Linked DNA regions of Homo sapiens. The protein of the gene in region 1 purifies or fractionates together with the protein of each later gene. This does not show direct contact. Each region holds a gene or a part of one and is shown on either strand. Other genes may lie near its edges.

Evidence for each region.
Region 2: the proteins of CSNK2A2 (region 1) and ZNF687 purify together in Homo sapiens (affinity purification with mass spectrometry; 8 studies listed by BioGRID and IntAct, with this or other methods). This does not show direct contact.
Region 3: the proteins of CSNK2A2 (region 1) and YAF2 purify together in Homo sapiens (affinity purification with mass spectrometry; 11 studies listed by BioGRID and IntAct, with this or other methods). This does not show direct contact.

Annotation. Positions count from the first base shown.
Region 1 is NC_000016.10:58,195,107-58,203,289, forward strand, and holds the start of CSNK2A2 (casein kinase II subunit alpha'), read right to left. Parts: upstream 3,001-8,183; 5' UTR 2,631-3,000; coding exon 2,527-2,630; intron 1,803-2,526; exon of another isoform or gene 1,739-1,802; coding exon 1,627-1,738; intron 1-1,626.
Region 2 is NC_000001.11:151,277,828-151,285,680, reverse strand, and holds the start of ZNF687 (zinc finger protein 687), read right to left. Parts: upstream 3,383-7,853; 5' UTR 3,286-3,382; exon of another isoform or gene 3,271-3,285; intron 3,149-3,270; exon of another isoform or gene 3,122-3,148; coding exon of another isoform or gene 3,099-3,121; intron 2,494-3,098; coding exon of another isoform or gene 2,363-2,493; intron 476-2,362; exon of another isoform or gene 1-475. UniProt on the Homo sapiens protein: May be involved in transcriptional regulation.
Region 3 is NC_000012.12:42,234,867-42,242,803, forward strand, and holds the start of YAF2 (YY1-associated factor 2), read right to left. Parts: upstream 3,383-7,937; 5' UTR 3,315-3,382; coding exon 3,289-3,314; intron 2,870-3,288; exon of another isoform or gene 2,859-2,869; coding exon 2,733-2,858; intron 2,705-2,732; exon of another isoform or gene 2,567-2,704; coding exon of another isoform or gene 2,550-2,566; intron 1,132-2,549; coding exon of another isoform or gene 930-1,131; exon of another isoform or gene 1-929. UniProt on the Homo sapiens protein: Binds to MYC and inhibits MYC-mediated transactivation. Also binds to MYCN and enhances MYCN-dependent transcriptional activation. Increases calpain 2-mediated proteolysis of YY1 in vitro.

The DNA.
Region 1 (8,183 bases):
CAGCTTATTGAAAACTTATGCTTATGTACATAAAGCTAATGTATGGCTTTCTAAGGTAATTTTCCTGTGACTTAAAAAAAAAAAAAACCACCTTGTGACTTCATAAATGCAATTCATATTTAGGGAAGAGAGGAGTCACACTCAGTATCTTCAACATCAGTTCCTCACTTCTCAGCCCCAGTGTGTCTGAGAACACAAATAACTTTGCTTTTTCTCTTTACTGCAATTCTGCTCCTTTATCACTAGGCTAGGATGTTTTGAGTGATGGAGTTAATCATTTTTTCTGAAAGATGATTACCAGAAAGCATAAGCCTGACCCCTCACATTAAACAGGGATTACCTATACCAGCTGCCCTAGCACACAGAAACAGCTTTTCTATACCACAGCTTTTCTAGTCCACAGAACCTCTGCAAAAGGGCCACAATGGAAATCACATGTATGCAAAGTGCTTACATCACTCTTCGGTCTTCTCAATCTCTCACTAAATGACTTGTATCCACATGAAATGATCCGGCAATAACGAGGACCCATCACAGATTCTAAGAACTACTTTTTACTATACCCTATAAAACATTATTAAAGCTACACAATCAGTTACCAGAAGGAAAATTTAGCCGACCCTTCATGCTAATTAAAATCATCTTCATCAAAGAGATAACGTCATATCATTATCAAATTCATTGCTAAACCATATATTAAGATAGTTTTGTTCCAATTATTACTTTAGTAATTATACATGAACTCTTCTATATTTTTACTAGCTTATAAGCAACAATGGCTCTCTGGCTTCCCAACAAGGCTTCTCAGCACTACTGGTGCACTGTATCCATACCACCTGAAACTTTACTGCCAAAGGAAAAAAACAAGTGATTATCCGCTAAGGAATTTCCTTCCACTTGGGCTTGAAATACATTTCTGAAGTCGCTCCAATTTTTTCCAACTTTCTTTCTGGAATAACATACAGCATGCACCAAGAGTAACAAACACAGTGCTCAGGGAGCCCTTAAATTGAGAGTGGCTTTTCTGTCTTTTGATTACCTATTTATTTTCTAACAAACGGAGCCCTTTTGGAATTTTTGCTTTAGGGAATTTACATTTTAGAACAAACACTTTACTGAACTTAGATTTGTGATGTCTGCACATTTTCTTGAAAGTTCATGGGAAAATGGGGTGGAAAAAGAAGTAATGAAGGGACATCAGATAAATAAAATTTGAGCGTCGGCTGGGCACAGTGGCTCACGCCTCTAATCCCAGCAACTATAGGAGGCCTGCAAGGAGTCCTTTTGGAGGACTGCTTGAGCTCAGGAGCTTAAGACCAGCCTGGGCAACATGACCAGACCCTGACTCTACAAAAAAATTTTAAAAATAGCTGGGCGTGGTGGCATGCACCTGTAGTCCCAGCTACTTGGGAGGCTGAGATGGATCACTGGAGCCCAGGAGTTGAAGGCTGCAGTGAACTATGATCTGCACTCCAGCCTGGGTGACAGAGTGAGACTCTGACTCTAAACAAATAAATTAAATTAAATTCAAGCTTGCATTGCCCATTATAGAATGTGACTGGGGTACCTTACAAACTTTTGCCCTGTGGGGAGGAAAATGTTACATACCACTCATAGGACACTCACCTTCAGGATTTTTACAACCACTCTCTCATTGTTGGTGATATTAATGGCCTCAAATACTTCACTATATTTTCCCCGACCAAGTTTTCGAACCAGTTGGTAATCATCTTGATTACTGTAAAAGGAAGACACACACATAAATGCCAGGACTGGGGGTTAACCAAGCCTATGCCCACTGTACACGTCATTCAGCCGCTTCCACCAGGCAAACACTTGGAAGTGTCTATACATCACGTCACAACTCATTCCCTAAATGAAAGCCACGACATAATCTTGGCTCCCTTCACTCTGCAGAGCTCCTAACCTAATTGGTCTCTCCTAACTTGGGAAGATGGGGCAGGAAGGCAACGCTCTGAGCCAATCCAGAGGGGCGAGCAAAGCACCCGTCCTGAAGGCCTAGAGGGTGCCCCCTGTGCCCCGCGGCTCCCCAGCACCTGCTTCTCGTTTCACATCTTCAAGGTAGACAATGCCTGTTTTAAAAATCTGGACGTCTTTAAGAAATTTCCTCCCACCACCTCATCTCAGAAAACCTAAAAGGCAGGGCATTTTAATAGCTCCAAAGGACAGCTGTTGACTTCCCACCCCAGTGGAAACCCAGAAGTGTGAGGAAGGGCAGCTCCCTCACTTCCACCCGGCGTCGATCCCTGGACCCCACACTTCTCCCCGAGTAAAAAAGCATTCCTTGGGGGAAAGGGGTGCGCAAAGCGGGGAGAAAGGGACGAAACGGGGGTAAAGGGGAGGGAAGAGGAAGACGAGGACATGTGCGAGAGCGGGACCTCTGCCTCCCTGCGGGCCCGCGGAGGGGTCGGCGGGAGACACCACCGGGCCCGAGTGCGGTTCGCAGGGGGTGGCCGGGCGGGGGCAGGGATCAGCGGGCCCGGCGGGGGGCGGCGACGGCTTTACCCCCAGCTCGGGACGTGAGCCTCGTAGTCCCAGTACTCGCGGCTCCTCAGACTGTTCACCTCGGCGTAGACCCGGGCCCTGCTGCCCGCGGCCGGGCCGGGCATGGCGGGCGGGACCGGGGGGCGGCGCGGGGCGCAGAGGGTGGCGGCGGCGGCGCGGCGGGGGACGCGGGGCGTCGGGCGGAGGAGGCAGCGGGCCGCCGGGCGCTGGAGGAGGAGGAGGAGGAGCGCGGCGGCGGGCGGCCGCGCCAGGCCGGGCCCGCGGGGGCGGGCGGGCTGGGGGCGCGGGGGGCGCCGGCCGAGCCGGCCCGGCCCTGGAGCGGCCGGCGGGGCGGCGGGGCGGGCGGCGCTCGCGCTCCGCGGCGGTCTCCGCTCGGCTCGCGGCCCCCAGGAGGCGGCGGCGGCGGCACCGGCAGCGGCAGCCACCGGCCGGGAAAGGGGCAGCGGCGGCGGCAGCGGAGAAGAAGGAGGAGAGGAGGAGGAGGCGGAGGAAACCCGGAAAAGGGGCCGCGCTCACTGGGAGCGGCCGCCGCCCGGCCTGGGGCCGCCCAGGCTCACAGCGCCCCCTGGAGCGCGGGGGGACCCGCCGGGCGGTGCCGGCCCCGCCCCGGCCCCGCCCCGGCACGCCCCGCCGCCTACCTCGCGCCCTCCGCCACCCTCGCCCTCCCGCCGCCACAGGTCGGACTGTCCAAATCGCCTCACCCTCGGGCTGGCTTGACTTCACGCCACAGGAGCCCCCCCTTCCACTGGCCGTTGCCCTAGAGCCCTCGCCCGCGACTCCCGACCCTTTCACTGTCCTTGGAGACCCTATCCCCAGCCCTGCACTCACCCAGCTTTTACCCACCCAACACATCCCATACTGACCCTATTCTGACCCTCCTGTCACCCAAACTGTCAAGTCCCTCCCCAGGGCCTCACTCAAACCTCAGAACCTCCCCCACCTCAATACTTCTCCCTTCCCCCGAGACATACCCCTCCTTCCCCCTCTGGACCCTGCCCTGTTAGGGTAGACTCCTCAGTCCCCAAGGCTTCCTACCCCCGTCATTCAGAGTGCTCCTCACAAAACCTTTCTACACTTCCCCCAAATGCCCTTCCAGAGCCTTCCCTGAATATCCACTTTGGTCACTTGGTTAAGCTGGCATTGACCAGGTTGTGCCACTGCAAAGTTACAATTTTTCCCTTTGTGATTAATAAGTCATTTGTGGGGAGAGACTTTGAGAGTGTAAATCTCCTGTTTGTGTTTAGGAGGAGGGAGAGCAGGAGAATTGCAAATCCGACCTGAAGGGACAGGCTGGGTTGGGGATGTGCCCAGAGTAGGTGGTCAACTGAGCTGGCCTGGCTTCCAGTGCTGCCTGCAGCCTTGAACACCCTTCTCCTTTGATCTTCTAGGCCTTTCTTCTGTCTTCCTTTCCCATCCCTCATCCTTTATCGACAGCACCTCTGCACCCAGTACAGGTTGCTTTCATTCCAGTCCCTTTTCACATTCTGTTTTCTGGATGAAACCCTGGGCCTTCCTGCTTGACACAGCTAAGAGCACAGTCTGTGGAGTCAGATCTATCCAGCACTGCTACTTAGAAGCTGTGTGACCTTAGGGCAATTACTCAACCTCTCTGTGTCACAGATTCTACAGCATAAAACCAGTAATAACGCTCACTTCACAGGGCTGCAAGGAGAATTAAACAAGGTAAACCATGTGAAACACTTAGGATGGTGTTCACTATTAGGATAGCATGTGTTCAATATGATTATTTCCAGGCCTAGGGCCTTTCTCTGCTCATTCCTCCCTCCCTGAGACCACCGTGCATCCGTCTTTTGGTTCCTTCTATCCTCCAAGCTTAACTAGGAGCCACCCCCAACCCCTCCACCCCACCTTCCCAAGGGTGTCTCCTTTTTCCTATTCAAATTTCACCTTTTTCTTTATTAGTAGTATTTTTTTAGAAATAGGGTGTCTCTATATTGCCCAGGCTGGAGTGCAGTGGCTATTCACAGGCATGATCCCACTACTGATCCGAACAGGAGTTTTGACCTGCTGTTTGCCACCTGGCAACCTGGTGGTCCTCCAGCCCCAGGAGGTCATCATAGTTGATGCCAAACTTAGTGTGGACACCTGATTGGCATTGCACACTACAGCCCAGAACTCCTGGGCTCAAACGATCTTCCCACCCCAGCCTCCTGAGGAGTTGGGACTACAGGCATGCCTCCAGCTCAAGTCTCAGCTTAAAGATCACTTTCTCTAGAGTTGATACTTCTCTATCTCAGCACCCTATCCACGTCCTTCATCAAACTGCATATCTTGTCATTATTTGTTTCCTGGGTTATTGTCTGTCCCCTCCTTTGTAAAAACAGCACAAGAGCAAGGACAGAGTGTGGGCGCTCACCACTGACTCTCCCAGCATTTGCCACAGTCAGAGACCTTCAGTAAATACAGTGCTACCCCACAGATGACTTAGGAATTACCAAGGGGAAACGAGGTCACCACCTTACCCATGGTCCAAACTTCTCATCAGTAGGGAACCAACTGATCCTCTGATGTGATGCACTGAGAAGGGACACCTCCCCCATGTGGTCCTCCTGCCAAAACATTTAACCTGAATCTAATGATAAGGACACCATCAGACAAATCCAAGCTGGGCGACATTCTGCCAAACAGCTAGCCTGAGTTCTTCAAAAAGTCAATGTCACTAGGAGAAAGAAAACCAAACGAAACCCTAGATTCGTATTCTTGTTACTGAAGACTTAGAGACATAATTAGATGAAGTGTATGATTCTGAATTAGAGTCTGGATTTTTTTTTAAAGTAGAAAGGAAAGGAGGGAAAGAGAAAGAATACAGCTCATATTGGGCTGGTGCAAAAGTTATTGAAATTCAATTGAAAGTAATGGCGAAAACCGCAGTTACTTTTGCACCAACCTAATAGAAGGTTACTGCAGGGGAAATTTGAATATAGGATGTATATTACACAATGTTAATGTATATTACACAACGTTATATTGTATCAATGTTAAAGTTTGTGAGTATGATCATTGTATTTAGTTATGCAGGAGAATCCCATAATTTTAGGAGTTACATGCCAAGTGTGTAGAGATGAAGAATCAATATTTGCAACTTAGTCTCAAATTGTTCTCCAGGAAAATGTGGGTTTCTGAGAGCATAAGCATGCATAGAGTGGGGAGGAATTGGGGGAAAATTTTGATAATTAGTGAATGTAGTTGAACAGTACATGAGCTTGCAATTTTTTGGTAGAATTTGAAAATTTTCAAAATAAAAACTAGAAAAAAAAATTAATGGAAAAAGTGGACTTTGGAATTTAATTCCTGAACCTGCAAACCTTTCTAAATCTCTTTCACTCTAGAAGACATAAATATCCTCAAGCTCTTAATGCAGCTTTAGGATTTGTTTCTGACAAGTCCCTGTGAACTAGACCAGACCAGAGATTCTTAATGCCAGTCCTTGGATGAATTTCCCCAGTTCTGGGAACCCCTGACACAATATGCAGAATTTGTGGGTTTGTGTGTGTGTGTGTGTGTGTGCATGTGCGTGTGTGTGTGTGTCCATTCTTTCCTTAGCATACATCAGATTCTCAAAGGAGGCCATGACCCAAAAATGATTCCAAACCACTGGTTTAACTACTATGTCCAACCTCAGCTGGGGCCTCATTCCTCACCTCCACCCTCGCCCACCTCTGACCCCACCCACCCTCCGTGCACCTTCCTCTCATCCCTCACCACATAGCCCACACCCATCTCACGTAACCTGATCCCACACCTGCGGGATGCCTGAGGATTCACCCACACACCACTCTGGTGCAACACACTCCTGGATTTGGCTGACACCATACTAACTCAGCCCTAAAACCTGCAGTCAGTCCACCCACAGCCAAATGGAATATTTCTGTGGTTTGTTGGGAGGTTGGGTGGGCACCCCATGGAATTGGCAGAGACCCCTGCCTCTCATTTCTGCCCACCCGCCATGAAACTGGCGTGGCTTGAGTTAAGGTGGGCAATTGGAAATGGTACTCATGCAACCCTCACCGAAGGAGTCTCACTTGGATATGAAGAGGGATAGGGTGGTGACTCTGCGGGGGAGGTGCCAGGCAGGGAGGGTCCGTGAATTAGAAGTGACTTCCCCTCATTACTCTGTGTGTGCAGTTTGAGGGTGAGTATAATTCAGTGGTGCAACACAAGGGAATGAAAGAGGGTATTTTGAATCAAATAACCCAACACTTTCATACCACCTCCAATGCCCCCAAATTCTATCCAAACACCAAAAATCCAAAAAACAAAAGCACATTTTAAAATCCCACTGAAGGCCACCTATCTTCACAAGCCTACTTTCAAAACATTTGAGAAGTTTATAGGCTTTTATCCTGCATCGATACTTCTCAAGAACCTAGCCTAACAAAATAATGAAAATTATGAACAAAGAATTATTGATCATGATGGCAATTTGTGTGTTCATCACACACATAATGATTCTACATCATTGAATCCCGCCAAAACCGTACATGGCTAAAAACCATTGAATTTAGACTTTAAATGGGTGGATTTATGTTATGTGAATTTTATCTCAACATAGCTGTTTTTAGAAATCTATAAGGTTGGAGCTCTTGTAAGGGTCCCCTTTGTGCGGAGGAGGAAACCAAGACTCCAATGACAATGACCAACTGAGGCAGAGCCTGGATTTGAACTCTGATCTTTCTGACCACCACGTCACTTTCCTTAACCCCTTTCTGATTCAGTATGTCATGCAAAGGCCCACAGACGTTCCGCATGATAATCATTATCTTTAATCATGAAAATGTAAAGTGATGTAAATATCACAAGCTGGGGGACCAGCTAAATAAATTGTGATACATTCCCTACAGTGAAACTATTAGGCGTTACTAAAAAGCATGATTATGAGGAATTTTTAGCAATGGACAAATTTTAGGACACAAGATTTTTAAATAGGAGAGCTGGGTATGGTGGTTCACGCCTGTAATCCCAGCACTTTGGGAGGCCGAGGTGGAAGGATCTCTTGAGGCCAGGAGTTTGAAATCAGCCTGGGCAACACTGAGAGACCCCAACTCTACAATAAAATTTAAAAAATTAGCTGGGCATGTTGGTGCAAGCCTTAGCTACTCAGGAGGCTGAAACAGATGGATTGTTTGAGCCCAGGAGTTCGAGGCTGCAGTAAGCTATGGTCATGCCATTGCACTCCAGCCTGAATCACAGAGCAAGCTCCTATCTCCAAAAATAAATAGATAAATAAATAAATACGTGTTAAAAATTTGTGGCCAGGTGTGGTGGTTCACGCCTGTAATCCCAGCACTTTGGGAGGCCGAGATGGGTGGATCACCTGAGGCCAAAATGGTGAAACCCCATCTCTATTAAAAATACAAAAAATTAGCTGGGCATGGTGGAAGCACGCCTGTAACCCCAGCTACTTGGGAGGCTGAGGCAGAAGAATCACTTGAGCCTGGGAGGCAGAGGTTGCAGTGAGCTGAGATTGCACCATTGCACTCCAGCCTGGGCAACAAGAGCGAAACTCCGTCCCAAAAAGAAAAGTTGTACAAGTAATTGTGGTAAGCAGAATAACATCCTTCACCCACCTCAAAGATACACACTTATGGCCGGGCACAGTGGCTCATGCCTGTAATCCCAGCACTTTGGGATGCTGA
Region 2 (7,853 bases), on another chromosome or scaffold:
CAGCACTTGGGGAGGCAGAGGCGGGCGGATCACGAGGTCAGGAGATCAAGACCATCCTGGCCAAGATAGTGAAACCCCGTCTCTACTAAAAATACAAAAATTAGCTGGGCATGGCAGCACACACCTGTAGTCCCAGCTACTCGGGAGGCTGAGGCAGAAGAATTGCTTGAACCTGGGAGGTGGAGTTTGCAGTGAGCTGAGATCGTGCCACTGCACTCCCACCTGGGCGACAGAGCAAGACTGTCTCAGAAAAAAAAAAAAAATACAGGGAACAGGGAAGGGTAATAGAGCTCAGTGAGCATTCTGGTGGAAACCATCTCATCCCCTCCGGTCCCCAGCATAGAACCAAATAATCAATACTATTATTAAGGAGGATGATGTACATGATGTTCTAGGTTTAAGGACTCATTCATGTCCGCATGGAATCAATTCATATTCTTCACGGATCTTCTGGGGTCCACACAGATCTGAAAGGCTGCATGTACAAAGGGACAATGCCATAAGCCAAGACTTAAGAAATGATCCTCGTTCAGCTTTATCAGGGGCGTGCAGTACAAGCAAGTTTCTTCAGTGCCTTACTTTTGCTGTTTGAAAGAGGACACAAATGGCCGGGTGTGGTGGCTCACATCTGTAATCCCAGCACTTTGGGAGGCCAATCACTTGGGCCCAGGAGTTCAAGACCACCCTGGGCAACATGGTGAAACTCCCCAGGCATGATGGCACGTGCCTGTAGTCCCAGCTATGCCTCCCAGCTGACATGGGAGGATCCCCTGAGCCCGGGAGGTCGAGGCTGTGATGGGCCATGATCATGCCACTGCACTCCAGCCTGGGTGACAGAGTGATACCGTCTCAAAAAAAAAAAAAAAAAAAAAAAAAAAGACAAGACAAGGCAGAGAGCACAAGTGATCTATGTATCATAGGGTTATTCTGAGCATAATACAAAATTGCTAATGTAAGAATCCCACCAAGAATACGATTTACTATTCCAGATGAACCAAGCAAGGACATGTCAGGTCAAGGAGGAACTGGAAAGGAATAAGCACTGGAACTCTAGGGCTGGGGTCGGAGGCAAGAGTCAGGGGTCATGCAGGATCAAGTCTAGGGCACCTGGGCCATCACTGGCACCTGGAGATCTAGCTTGGTCAGCAGGGAGAAAAGGACTCAAGGAAATTACCCAAGAGACCAAGATGGAAAGAATAAGACACAGGAACAGAAAGAGACAAAGAGAAGAGACAGAGGGGAAAATGGTGATGGCAGCCTGGTCACAAGGGCCCCAGCCTAGACCTCTCCTGTCACAAACACCTGCTGCTCGCTCACTACCTTCCCCAGAGTGCCTGGCCCTCCCCTAGCCAGCCCTTCCTTCTCCACCCCTCCCCATCTTGCTTTCCCGAGGCTAAAACTCCCAAGATACATACACATTTCTCCAGCACAGCTGCCACAGTGGGAAAAAGCCAGGCTCCCTCAACCCTCACCCATCATTTCTGCTCCAAGCTCCTCACCCCATTCCATCCCCTAACTTTAACTCCTCACCCTTTCCATTTTCCTGTGGCAACAGTAGCCCAGGAAGTTTCACCTAGCCTCAACCTGGCCAAGTGCAAAAAATAAAATTAAAAATCCCACAAGAATTATGTGGCACTAATCCAACAAGCAGGCCAGCTCAGAGTTTGTGGGAGACCCAGGTCTGTCCCCTACCAGTGTCTCCCCATGAGTGTTTCTGTATCTACGAAGAAGCAACTAAAGAGTCTATCCCTATCCATTCCCTGCCCAGGTTGCAGGCCATTTCCCAGCCAGCTCTCCCACCTCTCTCCAGTCTTCAGACTGTAACTAGAGACAGTCCCAGCAAGTGGCAGCTGGGATTGCTGGGACCAAGGTTGGGGTGGGGGCAAAACCAAAGGGGGAGTCCTCCCCTCACCCCCACCCTATTCAATTCTGCAGAATCTGGGTTTAAACAAAAACCCTTGTCTCTATAGGCCTGGCTCCTAAGCCTGGTTCCCTCCTGACCAGAGGCCTGAGCTACCTTCCACTCAGGTACTCAGAAAAGTGGACTGCTACAACGAAGACCAGCGGGGACTAGGAGAAAACACCTGCGAACTCACCCGCCCCCACACCCCGCCAGCCACCTCCCTCTTGGGTGCCCCAGTGACTTAGAGGTCATCCGATGGCCACCCACCCAGAGCAGACAGTCGACCAAGCAAGCCGCCAAGCTCAAGCCAAGGAGGATCAGGCCTTCCTGCGACTGCTGAGCCCTGTCTCTAGGGCTCCTATCTCCCCCGCCCCCTTTCCCTCTGTGGTTCCCCAAAAGCCAAAGAGGCTGAACAGGAAGAGGCTGAACAGGCCCAGGTCGAGTGGGGGCTCCACTGACCTTTGCCCGGGCCCAAGGCCTGCAGCGCAGAGGAGGGCGAGGGGCTGGCGGCGATTAGGTTGAGGCCAAGCTGGGTAGCAGACGGAATTAAGTCCCTGCCATCTGCCGAGGGCTGGCGCGGGGAGCAAGTCCTGGGTTTCGAGGAGGGGGCGGGGTGTACACATGAGAAACTACAAGGGAAACTGAGGCGCGCGGCCCTTCTCTCACTCGCACCGGCGTGCGAAGCGAAGGCCGGGCCTCAGCCAGGCCAGGCCCTTTGGGAGCTGCTGCGCAGCACCTGGGGACCCAGGACTACACAGGATAGGGTGGGGAGCTGGAAAGAGGGGAGGAGAGAGGGGACGGTCTCTGCGCGACTCTCAGCTCTCTAGCTGGGGTCCGTCCCAACTCGGACCTCGTCCCCTCCCCTCCGGGCGCAGCGGAGCCTCCTCCCGCCGCGCACTCCCGGAGGCTCGCTAGAGACTGGAGACTGATCGGGGGGTGCGCAGGGGGCCGGGGGCGCAAGCCTGAGTCTTGCCCGGGCCCGGACGCTGACCCGCACCCAGTCGGGGTGCAGGTTCTGCTCCGGCCTGGCCCAGGTCCCCCGCCCCCATCCCCGGGAACGGACACCATTTTAGGTCGCGACATCCCGCAGCCTTCAATCTCCGGGCCGCACTTCGGGTGCCTCTCGAGCCGGGGGCGCCAGGACCTGGGGTTCTCGACCCTCCTGGGGGTTTACCCGGCTACGGACTGTGCTTACAACAGGCCAGGAGTTTCGCCCATCCGCCCCAATGGATGGAGGCGGTGTCTGGGCCTTCCTAGAAGCCGCCCCAGGGGGCGGCGCGGAGAAGGGGGTAGTTGACCAAGTGGGGGAGGGGCGGGGGTATTTACCCGCCCCCCCCAAGGGGGCGGAGCCAAGGGCGGGTATTTACCCCAGGCACGCTTACTTGTTCCGCTCCTGGTGCGGGCCGAGACCCGGCGGTCTCTACCCCGCTCCAGCCGCTGCAGCCACCGCCGCCCTCCCCGCGGCCGCCGCTACTTCCTGCTTCTCTCCGGTTCGGCCTCCCCACTCCCTCTCCTCCCTCCGCGCTCCAGGTCTGGGCTGCCCGTTTTCGCACTCGCCATTGGCCCTTGCCCCCGTCGCTCAGCCCTGTGCCCCTTCCAGCCCCGCACTGGGTTGGCCCTAAATACTGCCGCTCGGAACTAGCCCCGCACAGTCCTCTTATGCTCATTGGGCAAGGGGCCGAGGCCCTCTGAAGATACCTCTCCCCATTGGCTGCGCCGGGGTCCGTCTGCCCCATCTACGAGTCTCGTAAACGATTGGCCTCCGCCACTGTCGCTTAGAAAGAAGCCAGCCTGCTTCCCAGCTTGCCTACTGGAAGGGGGAGCACCCAGGTGCGTCTCCGCCCCTCGCTCCCTACTGGCCGCTCGAAGCTTGAAGCTGCAGTTCACTTTCGCGAATGTAAGGAACCCAGCTTCTGTGTGGTGGGCACTGAGAGCAGAACCGCATTGAGTCGGAGTGGAGCACAGAAGTGTAGGTCCTTTTGCGCTGTTTCAAGCTAAACCCGTGTCACTGATGCCGTACAGAAGTTACAGAATGGGACGCCACCCCAAACATTACGTCATCCGCTGACCATTTCCTTGCGGTCTTCCCACCGTCTAAATCGCCATATAATCTGATGGATGGGGTCCTCGCGCGGTTCAGCTCCTGGGCGACAGCGTAACCCGTCGCTCCTCCCTCTGCGGGAGGGCGTGGACGGGGCACGGGATTTGGAGCATGGAAGGAATCGGGACCTAAAGGTTGGGAAGGGCTCGCGGACCGGAAGCGGGGGAGGTGACGTAGGAGTGCTGGCGTGGCCGGGCCATTTCCAAAGAGGCATTAAAGGAGCAACTGATAGGCGTCCTAAGTATGGGCTGGGGGGGGAACCGCCAGCTCCATTTCCCATTTAAGGGCTCCCCTTTTCCCCGCCCCCAGCATGGAGTGGGGGTGGGGTCAAGGTCGAGTTTTCCCGCGCTTTGTTGCCACGCCCCCTGGAGGCGGGGGAAAGGGAGGAGTCGCTCGGAAAATGAATCTCCTTGATGCTCTAATAGCACTCACTGGCAGAATTCGTATGCAAGCCCAGTGTGCCACCTCGCGCACGCAGCCGCTCGTTAACGGCGTGTTTTTATTTTTTAATTAATTTTTTTGAGGCAGAGCCTCACTCTGCTGCCCAGGCGGGAGCACAGTGGCGCGATCACGGCTGACTGCAGCCTCAACCTCCCAGGCTCCAGTGATCCTCCCGCCTCAGCCTCCTGAGTAGCTGGGACTACAAGTGAGCGCCAAATCGCCCTGCTAACTTTTTTATTTTTTGAAGAGACAGGGTTTTGCCATGTTGCCCAGGCTGGTCTCAAGCAATCCTACAGACGTGAGCCACTACTCCCTACCTTGGCGAAGTTTTTTATTTTTTATTTTTTGAAACGGGGCCTCATTCTGTCGTCCAGACTGGAGTGCAGTGGCGGGATCTCGGCTCACGGCAACCTCCGTCTCCCAGGCTCAAGCAATTCTCCTGCCTCAGCCTTCCGACCAGCTGGGATTACAGGTGTGCGACACTACCCGCCCGGCTAATTTTTGTTTTTTTCTTTTTTTTTTTTTTTTGAGACGGAGTCTCGCTGTGTCGCCCAGGCTGGAGTGCAGTGGCGCGATCTCGGCTCACTGCAAGCTCCGCCTCCCGGGTTCACGCCATTCTCCTGCCTCAGCCTCCCGAGTAGCTGGGACTGCAGGCGCTCTCCACAATGCCCGGCTAATTTTTTGTGTTTTTAGTAGAGACGGGGTTTCACCGTGTTAGCCAGGATAGTCTTGATCTCCTGACCTCGTGATCCGCCCGCCTCGGCCTCCCAAAGTGCTGGGATTACAGGCATGAGCCACCGCGGCCGGCCATTTTTGTATTTTTAGTAGAGACGGGGTTTCACCGCATTGGCCAGGCTGGTCTCGAACTCCTGACCTCAAATCATCCATCCGCCTTGGCCTCCCAAAGTGCTGGGATTACAGATGTGACCCACCGGGCCCGGCAAAGTTTTTAAAAGTGGTTTCGTTACCCTGCCCAGGAGTCCCAGGACACCGGAACCAGGACTCCCCGGCGCACCCGGAGAGTTTCCGAGCTCCTTTGAAGTATGAATCAGAACTTCTGGATGGGAATCCTGGAGCCACCACTTGCCCTATGGTCGCAATGGGCAAGTCGCTCAACCTCCCAGATCCTGTTTTCTCATGAGTAAAACGGGGATTATAATACCCACCTGACAATATTATTTTTGTGAGAATTAAATGAGTTTAGAATGTAAACACGCTTTGTAAAGTAATTGGCAGTTGGGATTAGTGTGCCCTTTCTCCCGGAGCCTTGCATCCTGTGCATTTGCTCAGGTGCTGTTCCTTCTCTGAGCAACTAATTAAAGGTCCCTAACCCGATGTAACCAACCGGCATTCCATTTCCACCTCCTCTTCTGGTCTCCCTATGCGGAATAACAATTACTACTCATATACACATAATATTTTGGGGGGCTCACGCCTGTAATCCCAGCACTTTGAGAAGTCTAGGTGGGTAGCTCACTTGAGCCCTGGAGTTCGAGACTAGCCTGTGCAACACAGCAGGACTCTGCCTCTACAGAATATTTGGAAAAAAAAATTAGCCAGGGGTGTTGGCAGGCACCTGTGATCCCAGCTACTGGGGAGGCTGGGATGGAAGGATCGCTTGAGTCCAGGAAGTCAAAACTACAGTGAGCCGGGATCGCACCACTGCACTCCAACCTGGGAGACAGAGCGAGACTCTGTCTCAAAAAAAAAAAAAAAAAAAACACACACACACAGAAAAACTTTATTTATTTTATTAATAAACATATTATTAATAACTCACGTAGTCCTTACCACAACCATGGAAGGAGGTACTATTTCAGGTACTGGAGATGTAGCAATGAACAAAGCAGACAAGAAGCCCTGTCATGAAACACACATTCCTAAAGAGAAGACAAACAATAAATATTAGAAATGGTAGCTGCCAAGGAATAAAATAGAGTTATCAAGCCATGCAAAGACAGAGGAATCTTCGATGCATATGACTAAGTGAAAGAAGCCAATCTGAAAAGGTTGCATGCTGTATGATTCCAGCTATGTGACATTCTAGAAAAGGCAAAACTATAGAGAGTAAAAAGATCAGTGGTTGGTTGCTGAGGGTTCAGGTGGAGGGAGAGAGATGAATAAATAAATGGAGCACAGGGGACTCTTACAACACTGAAACTATTCTATGTGATACTGTAATAGTGGATACATGTGTCAACAGCCATGGAATGTACAACACAAAGAGTGAACCCTGTGAGCATGGTGGCTCACACATGTAATCCCTGAACTTTGGGAGGCCAAAGCGGGAGGATCAACAAAAAATTTGAAAAATTAGCCGCGTACAGTGGCGCACACCTGTAGTCCCAACTACTCAAGTGGCTGAAGCAGGAGAGTCCCTTGAGCCCAGAAGTTTGAGGCTGCAGTGAGCTACGATCCTGCTGCCGCACTCCAGCCTGGGCAACAAAGTGAGACCCTGTCTCTTAATAATAATGTTTCCATATTGGTTCATCAATTGTAACAAATGTACCACACTAATGCGAGATATTAATAAATAATAGAGTAACCTGAGCAACATGGAGAGACCCCATCTCTACAAAAAAACTTTTTTTTAAGTAGCGTGGCATGGTGGTGCACACCTGTGGTCCCAGCTACTTGGGAGGCTGAGGAGGGAGAATCACCTGAGCCCTGGAGGTCAAGGTTGCAGTGAGCTGTAATCACACCACTACACCCCAGCCTGGGCAAAAGACCAAGACCTTGTCTCAAAATAATAATAATAATAGGGGAAACTGGAGAGAGAGGATGTGTGGGAACTCGCATTTTGTGCTCAATTTTTCTGTAAACCTAAAAATGCTGTAAAAAATAAAGTGTATTAATTTAAAAACAAAAACAATTTAAAAAAAAAAACAAAGCAGGCGGCTGGGCGCAGTGGCTCATGCCTGTAATCCCAGCACTTTGGGAGGCCGAGGCGGGTGGACCATGAGGTCAGGAGATCAAGACCATTCTGGCTAACATGGTGAAACCCTGTCTCTACTAAAAATACAAAAAATTAGCTGGTCATGGTGGCACACGCCTATAGTCCCAGCTACTTGGGAGGCTGAGGCAGGAGAATCGCTTGAACCCGGGAGGCAGAAGTTGCATTGAGCCGAGATCGCACCACCACACTCCAGCCTGGGTGACAGAGCAAGACTCTGTCTCAAAAAAACAAAAACAAAAGCAAGGAAAGATGACAGTAAGTGTGGGAGGGTTGCAATTTTAGGTAGGGTGGACAGTAAAGGCCTTTTCGAGAAGATGGTGGTTAAGTAAAGGTCTGAAAGAGATGAGGGAGTGAGCCATGCAGCTATCTGGGACAAGAACATTCCAGGAGGAAAGAACAAGTACAAGGTCCTCAGGAGGGGAGTGTGTTCCAGAGGGGGTGGGAGGAGTGAA
Region 3 (7,937 bases), on another chromosome or scaffold:
AGTTTCAGCTACTTGGGAGGCTGAGGTGGGAGGATTCCTTGAACCTGGGAGTTCGAGGCTGCAGTGAGCCTGGATGATGCCACTGCAACCCAGCCTGGGCAACAGAATGAGATCTTATCTCAAAAAAGAAAAAAGAAAAAAAGAAGACTTCAAAGGTAGAACAAGGACTCAATCTTCTCTGCAGGTCTAAAAAGAAAAAAGTTTTTCAAATGTCTAGAATGGCTTAGACTTGGCCTAACATTTGGCAATGAGGCAGAATCAGTTCAAAGGTCAGTCTGACCCAAAGGATTCAAATCCCATCTGTGCGTCACACAAACAAATCATTAGCAAACTGCATCCTTCTGCTCTGCAGCTATCCAGTCTTGGCTTTAGTACTTGCCAACCTTACTCTGGAAATTACCCTGTTCATTAATAAGTCAATTATGGAGAATTATTTCTTCCAACTACTGAAACTTTTGCTTCTCAACACCGTTCTGCAGTCCTTTAATCTTGTTTTTTTAACATTACCAGAGAGGAAAAATATTAATATTCTGTGATGCAATCAATATCTTCTCTAGTAACAATACCCTGTTCCACACTGTTCTATACAAACACAGATTCTACCCTGAATTTCAGAAACCACTAGGAAAATAACAGATAACAGAGAAATTAGAGCTCTTAGGTTTAACTTAGAGCCAAAATCAAAAGAGAAGAGAATTCAGAGAGAGGAAGGAAGAAGCTGAGAGGGTCGTGGTGTAGAACACTTACTTTCAGGAACACAGTGTCCCTTAGATTTCTGGTGAGTTGCCCAGAGCCTCTTCAGTTTCAATCCAAATGACAATGCTTCTCTGAGTCCTCCTCAAGTAATGTTTCCACCACTAAAAATTGGATCTACAAGAGCTTAGATGTACTGGTAAAAAAAAAAAATGTCAGGGGCCCCCATGTGGGCCTCAAGCCTCTTTTAAACTAGGCCCACTTCTCTGTCCTGGGCCAACTCCCCTGTGTACTATATTCCTTCTTCTTCCAGGTGCCAGGTATTCAGCCTGTTTCTTCTCTTCTGAGCTGCCACCACCTACTCTATTTCTCAGGGTTCCTCTAACCCCAAGACTGGCTGTGGAGTAGGACACCAGCTTCCCCCCTTCCTTGCTGTCCCTGCAAATAAACATATAGGCTCTTCTAGTTTCAGTATTTTTCTAATGGCTACAAGAAAATAGAGAGGGAACAACAAAAAGCAATAATATATAGTACCAGAGATCAAGATTATAATTGTTTCCACTTTAATGTTCCTGCCTCCAAAAAACGAATTTTCTAAAAATTGCTTATTGAGCATTTTAAAAAGCACAAAGTACTAACACAGATACACAAATATACTCTAAACCAACTCCAACCTTACACAGCCAAGAAGATACTCTGCTTTTCAAAATACTTAAATCACAAATCACGGGTCCAAAAATAGTAACCACAATCATTTTAGCAAATACTTTTTTTCTTTTTGGAATGTTCTGTTGTAATCCCTTAAATTTAGCATACGTTTGAAAGTTTGCTTTTTGAATATGAAAAATGTACGAAATATTTTATCAATTGTGGGAATATACAAAAAGCATATGATGATTTACAAAAAACAAGCATGTCAAAACCAGCGAGCTTCACTGAGAAATTTTTCAGATAAGTTACTGTCAACCATTCCTGTCTCTAAATTTTAAACTTAATAAAATTCTGTAAAGTGTTTTTTAAAAAATCAAGATCTCATTTTTTAGAAATCTAACGTCTACTGAATATTTGTATATGTCAATATTACATGTGCCTTCTTTTTTAAAGCAACAGTAAGATTAGTATGCTTATTGTTATAGTTTAGTTTCTAATGGACTTTGTAATATCAAAATACATATCTTCTCTAAATATTAAGTAATAAATCACAGGATTATATTTAATTCAAAGGGTACCTTCGTATAAGAATCAAGGAGCTCGATAACTAAGTGCTGACAGATTAAGAATGCCACTGACTGAATTTCCTGGATGATTTTCTTTATTCACTTAATTCAAAGTCATTTTTTAAAAGACAGAGTTATTATACTGCAAGCTTACAATAAATAAAGTCTGAAAATAGGCAGAGATCTTTTCATCTCATTTGTCTAAGAGACTGCCATTTAATCAAACTAAAGATATAAAGGTACTTTCAGTAAAAATCTGTTCCTGTGACTGGGCTCATCTCCAACTACTTATTTATAAAATATTAGAGTACTGGAATAAAAACACTAAATAAAACCTTGATCTGACCCTTCCAGAAGTACATGTAGAAAAATAAGTTTTAATATATTGTGTATTCTGCAATCAGATACTTTTCTTTCTTTAGGAACGAAATTAAATTACATCCTTTGCTCCTAAAGAGATTTTATGGGTTTTCCTTGATCCCCACACACTAACACAACAATGCAGCCAACATTTTTATACCCAGAATGGGGAGAGGGGCATTACACCCAGCGATACGAATTAAATCGCAGTAGCTAATGCCTCCCTTAAATAATTTATTCTCTCTTGGCAGCAAAAAACGTTACAGCCTCTTCAATTACCCCTCACCGCAAACCATCGCCTGGGTTGCGATCAATGTGACCCAGTTCCTATCGCCACAGCCACCTCCGTCTGCCTCCTCCCGCCGGGTCCGCCAGTGTCATGGGAGGGGGCGGCAGCCGCAAGGGCGTCCTCTGGTCGCCACCCCGCCGGCCGGCGGCGCGAGGGGCAGGCCCGGGACTCACCGGGTGGAGGTGCCCTTCCGCACATCGCACATCATGCACTTGAAGGCCTCGGCGCTGTTCCGGAAGGTGCAGACGCTACAGTCCCAGTAACCCTCATCCGAGGACGGCTTCGGCTGCCGCTTCGGCCTGCAGGACACAACCCGGACACGACGCGGCGCGGGGTCACCAGCAGGCCGCGCCCGGTGCCCGGGCCCCGCGGCCGCCCCCGCCCCGCCCCCCGCCCCAATTCTGCGACCCCCGCCCCGCGGGCCCTCGGCGCGCCGCGCTCCGGCTGAGGGGGAAGGGAGTCAGGAAGAGGCAGGGCGCGAGCGCGGCCGCAGTCGCCGCCGCCACAGCCGCTCTGACACCCGGGCGGCCGCTCCGGTCGCCGCCGCCATCGCGGCTCCATTGTGGGGCGGCCGGCGCCGGCCCCCTCAAGCGGCAGCACTCGCACACCAGCGGCGCTGCCCCCGTGCTCGCCCCGGTGCCCGGGCGGCTAGCGAGGCGGCCACCCGAAGCCCTGCACGAGGGCCCTGCCGCCCGCACAGTCCGGGCCCCGGGGCCCGGGCGCTGTTACCTGGTGGGGCTCTTCTTGTCTCCCATGGCTTGGCTATCACCGCACGCCGAGAGTCGCCGCCGCGACCGCTCTGTTTGTCAATAAGGAGGATAATAAGCCGGGCGGAAGCGGGCGGGGGAGGAGGGAGGGAGGGGGCGGGGAAGGCCGCACCGCCGCGCTCGGGAGCCGCCGCCGGATCCCACGCAGCCTCCAGCTGTCGGGGAAACTCCTGCCTGGGCGCACGTGACCCTCGCCGGCCAACCAGCAGCCGCGCCGGAGACTTCAAACGCGGCCAGCGCGGCCCAGCACCCGCGGCGAGTTAGCCGGCGGGCGGTGCGGGGGTGGCCGCGGTGGCCGCGGCTGCCTCGGGCGCCGGCGCCGCCTCTCCGCGCTGTTCCCCCGTTGCCCCCTTGGTACCCCCGGCTGCCGGGGACTGCCTCGCGCTCCAGAGCCCCTCTGAGGAGGAAAACGTCTGTCCCACCGACTGGCAGGGGATGCTCCGTCATCCCGTGCGAAGCCTGGTCCAAGGTAGGGCCGGCCGGCGTTCGGAGGCCTGTCCAGGTCTGGACAGAAGTGCCAGCCCGGGATCTCCAGGTAGAACGACTTTCCTGGCCTCCGCTGTCCTTAGCTACCCAGCCCCCGCCTGCAGTATACCGGGGGGAAGGCGGGAACCAACACGCAGCGCCATTGCTACATGCCTTAAAGCACTGTCTGGTTTATGCACACAGATGCTCTAACAAGTAGGGATTGTCAACCCTAACTTAGAGGAATTGAAATCAAGACTCAAGAGAGATTAGGTGACTTCCTCTAGGCTATATAATTAGAAAATGACAAAGCCAAGAGTCTAACTCTGTTTTAATTCCAAACGCGCCCTTTTGGCCTCTCAGGCCTCTGCAGTAGCTGCTTTTGAAAGAAACCCCTATATACTCATAAGTCCTTTTTAAATATAAGGAGTTTGCATGTCCCCTCAACGCTGTCTGCTAACAAAAGAACACCTTCCCAGGTCTCTACGTCAACATACTAAAGGTCCTCATACTCCAGACTCCAGCAACAGCCATCTAACTGGTCTCCGAAGCTCCACTTCTACCTCCCCAATGTATTCAGTAATCCACAACCAGATTAATAATAAAATGCTGTTAATACTATGCCACCACTCTGATAAAGAACCACTAACGACTTGCCCACACTCCTTAGCCTGGCATTCAAAGGCTTCACACATTTTCCCTACCTCTGCCTCCCTCTCCCATAAGGAAAGCTGCCTCCTGACAAAGAGTGCAGATGAAATTCATTCCCTTACCAGAACCCTTCCTTCATGCACATGGGTTACTTCTGCATAAAGTATATCCCTCTTTAACTGTGCTGTTTCTGTCCATCTTTCTAGGTTTACATCAAGTCCGAATTCATGTAAAATAATTTTATAGCTAAACTACATAGGAAATAATACAGTCAGAAGCCCAGGATTCTCAGCCTGCTTCTCCTGTTTCTTAGCTGATAGACCTTGGAAGTATTGCTTAATTTCTGTAATTCTCAACGTTTTCATATTCTGAATTGCATCTATATGAGATTGTTGTGCGATTAATAATAACATTTTTTGGCCGGTTGCGGTCGCTCACGCATGTAATCCCAGCACTTTGGGAGGCCGAGGCGGGCGGATCACCTGAGGTCAGGAGTTCACAAGACCAGCCTGGCCAACGTGGCGAAACCCCATCTCTATTAAAAAATACAAAAATTAGCCAGCTGTGGTGGCGGGCGCCTGTAATCTCAGCTACTCGGGAGGCTGAGGTAGGAGAATCGCTGGAATCCGAGAGTGAGAGGTTGCTGTGAGCCGAGATCGTGCCACTGCACTCGAGCTTGGGCGACAGAGCGAGACTCCGCCTCTAAGTAAATAAATAAATAACATTTTTTTGAGCACTATGTGCCAGGCACTTTGTAAATCCCTGCGCATAGATGCATATTTTAAAGGACTCAAAGTACTATGCACATGGCCTCATCGACTGCAGATGCTCTTCGATTTAGAAAGGGGATACTTCCCGATAAATCCACCTTAAATAGAAAATATTGTAAATTGAAAATGCATTTGGTACACCGATAAATCCATCGTAAAGTAGAAAAATCGTAAGTCGAGCCATTGTAAATCCGTAGTCTAGCCCTTCTTTTTAAAGACAAGGCAATTAGGGCCCAGGTTAAATGGTTTTTCTTTGATGAGCAGGCCAGGGTTAGAGCTCAGGTATCCTATTGGTCTTTCACCGCATCTTCTTTCTGATTAACCAAATCACTCCATTTACATAGCAGTCTCTAAACTCGTTGTACCATCTGTACTTTTTGCAAATGTAGCTTCTCATGATTCAGACCCAAATTCGGAAACCAGGAACCATGAGGAGTATGATTGAGGCACGTATACAAGAGAACCAGATTTAAGGCCTAGTCTTTAACCTCTCAGTAATGCAGTGGGTAAACTCAGCTAAGTTTTTTTCATATGTAAAATAAAGGAGTTAAAACTATTATCACAACTAAGGTCCCTTGCAAGTCTAAGGCATTGTGATGTTTTTAAATGCCTCAACTGGATGGATCCTCAAATAGACTGACAAGAACTGCTCTACTTGCAAAAGTGATGGCAACAATGTATTTTTAAATAAAAAGGAAACTAAATCAAGCACTCTAAAAATCCCCCATGCTGCAAATCACCATTTCACTAGATTGTAACCTCCCTCACTAAAAAGTAAGCCGCACCTCTGAATCATGAACAAAAAGCACAATAACTTTTGTTGCCTTTATTGCTGCATCTCCAGCCCCTAGAACAGTGTGACACATAGTGGGCACTCAATAAATATTCTGAGAATAAATACATCCACTTATAGTCAGGTTAGCGCGCGCCTGTATTCCCAGCTACTTGGGAGGCTGAGGCAGGAAGATAACTTGGGCCCCGGAGTTCCAGACCAGCCTGAGCAACAAAGCCAAGACCCTGTTTCTAAACTAAATAATCAATACATTCACTTGTGTTACAATTGTTGAATGAGATTTTTTTCTTTCATATTGGGATTTACAAACTGTTAGGCATATTGCATGCAGTGGATGGTCAATAAATGCCAGAATTAACATTTATCCTTCAAAATGAACTTTACAACTCCACACATCCTTGTCGATGAACCAGGAACCTAGTTTTTGTGGAGCACAGAATCATATGCCCTTGCACTATACCAACTGCCTCCCATTTATGGGTGTTTCTCTTAAAAAAAAATCTCTGCCCCTACTAGGCTTACGTGGAGACAGTAGTACAGGAGGTACTCCTCCCATTTCACCACAAAAAGTCACACCTTTCCTAAAGTGTTTACTAGCTGTAAGAGTGGCTGTTGTGGAGAAAACAGATCTTTTTATTACTAAAGTGGCCCAGGTTCTTACCCAATCAGGTGTCTTTTCAATACAGTAACAGAGTTCAGTACTTTAGAAATGTTAATTCATTACGGTCACTTGTAAAGTGACAAACACTAACGATCGTTTTAACAATTTAACAAGTGTTGAAGTTTTCTGATGATTTACTTTTTTTGTTGTTTGTTTGTTTTTTTGTGTGTTTGTTTGTTTTTTTGTTTTTGTGTGTGTGTGTGAGAGAGTCTCACTCTAGTGCCTGGGCTGTAGTACAGTGGTGTGATCATAGGTCACTAAAGCCTTGAACTCCTGGGCTCCAGCGATTCTCCTGCCTCAGCCTCCTGAAGTGTTGGGATTCCAGGCATGAGCCACTGTGCCTGGCCTTACCTTAATGTTTAAAAGGTAAATGAGGGCAGACCAGTGGCTCATGCCTGTAATCCCAATACTTTGGGAGGCCGAGGTGGGCAGATATCTTGAGCTCAGGAGTTCAACAATAGCCTGGGCCATATGGGGAAACCCTGTCTCTACAAAAAATACAAAAATTAGCCGGGTGTGGTGGCATGCACCTGTAGTCCCAGCTACTTGGGAGGCTGAGGTGGGAGGATCACTTGAATCCAGGAAGCAGAGGTTGCAGTGAGCCAAGATCACACCACTGCACTCTATCCTGGGTGACAGAATGAGGCTCTGTCTCACAAAAAAAAAAAAAAAAAAAAAAAAAAAGTAAAGCAATCTTTACTTTCCCCAGTTACTGAGGAAGCTGAGAGCTGAGGCAGGAAGGATCACTTGAACCCAGGAGCTGTGGGCTGTAGTGTGCTATACTATTCGAGTGTCTGCACTAAGTTCGCCATCAATATGGTGACTTCCCAAGAGTGAGGGGCCACCAGGTTGCCTAAGGAGGGGTGAACTGGCCCAAGTCAGAAACTGAGCAGGTCAAAACTCCCGTGCAGCGCTGGGCGCAGTAGCTTACACCTGTAATCCCAGCACTTTGGGAGGCTGAGGCAGGCGGATCACCTGAGGTCAGGAGTTCAAGACTAGCCTGGCCAACATGGCGAAACCCCATCTCTACTAAAAAATACAAAAATTATCCAGGCGTGGTGGCACGTGCCTGTAATCCCAGCTACTCGGGAGGCTGAGGCAGGGAGAATTGCTTGAACCTGGGAGGCAGAGGTTGCAGTGAGCTGAGATTGCGCCATTGCACTCCAGCCTGAATGACAGAGTATGACTCTGTCTGAAAAACAGAAACAAAAAACTCCCATGCTGATCAGCTGTGGGATCATGCCTGTGAATAGACACTGCACTCCAGCCTA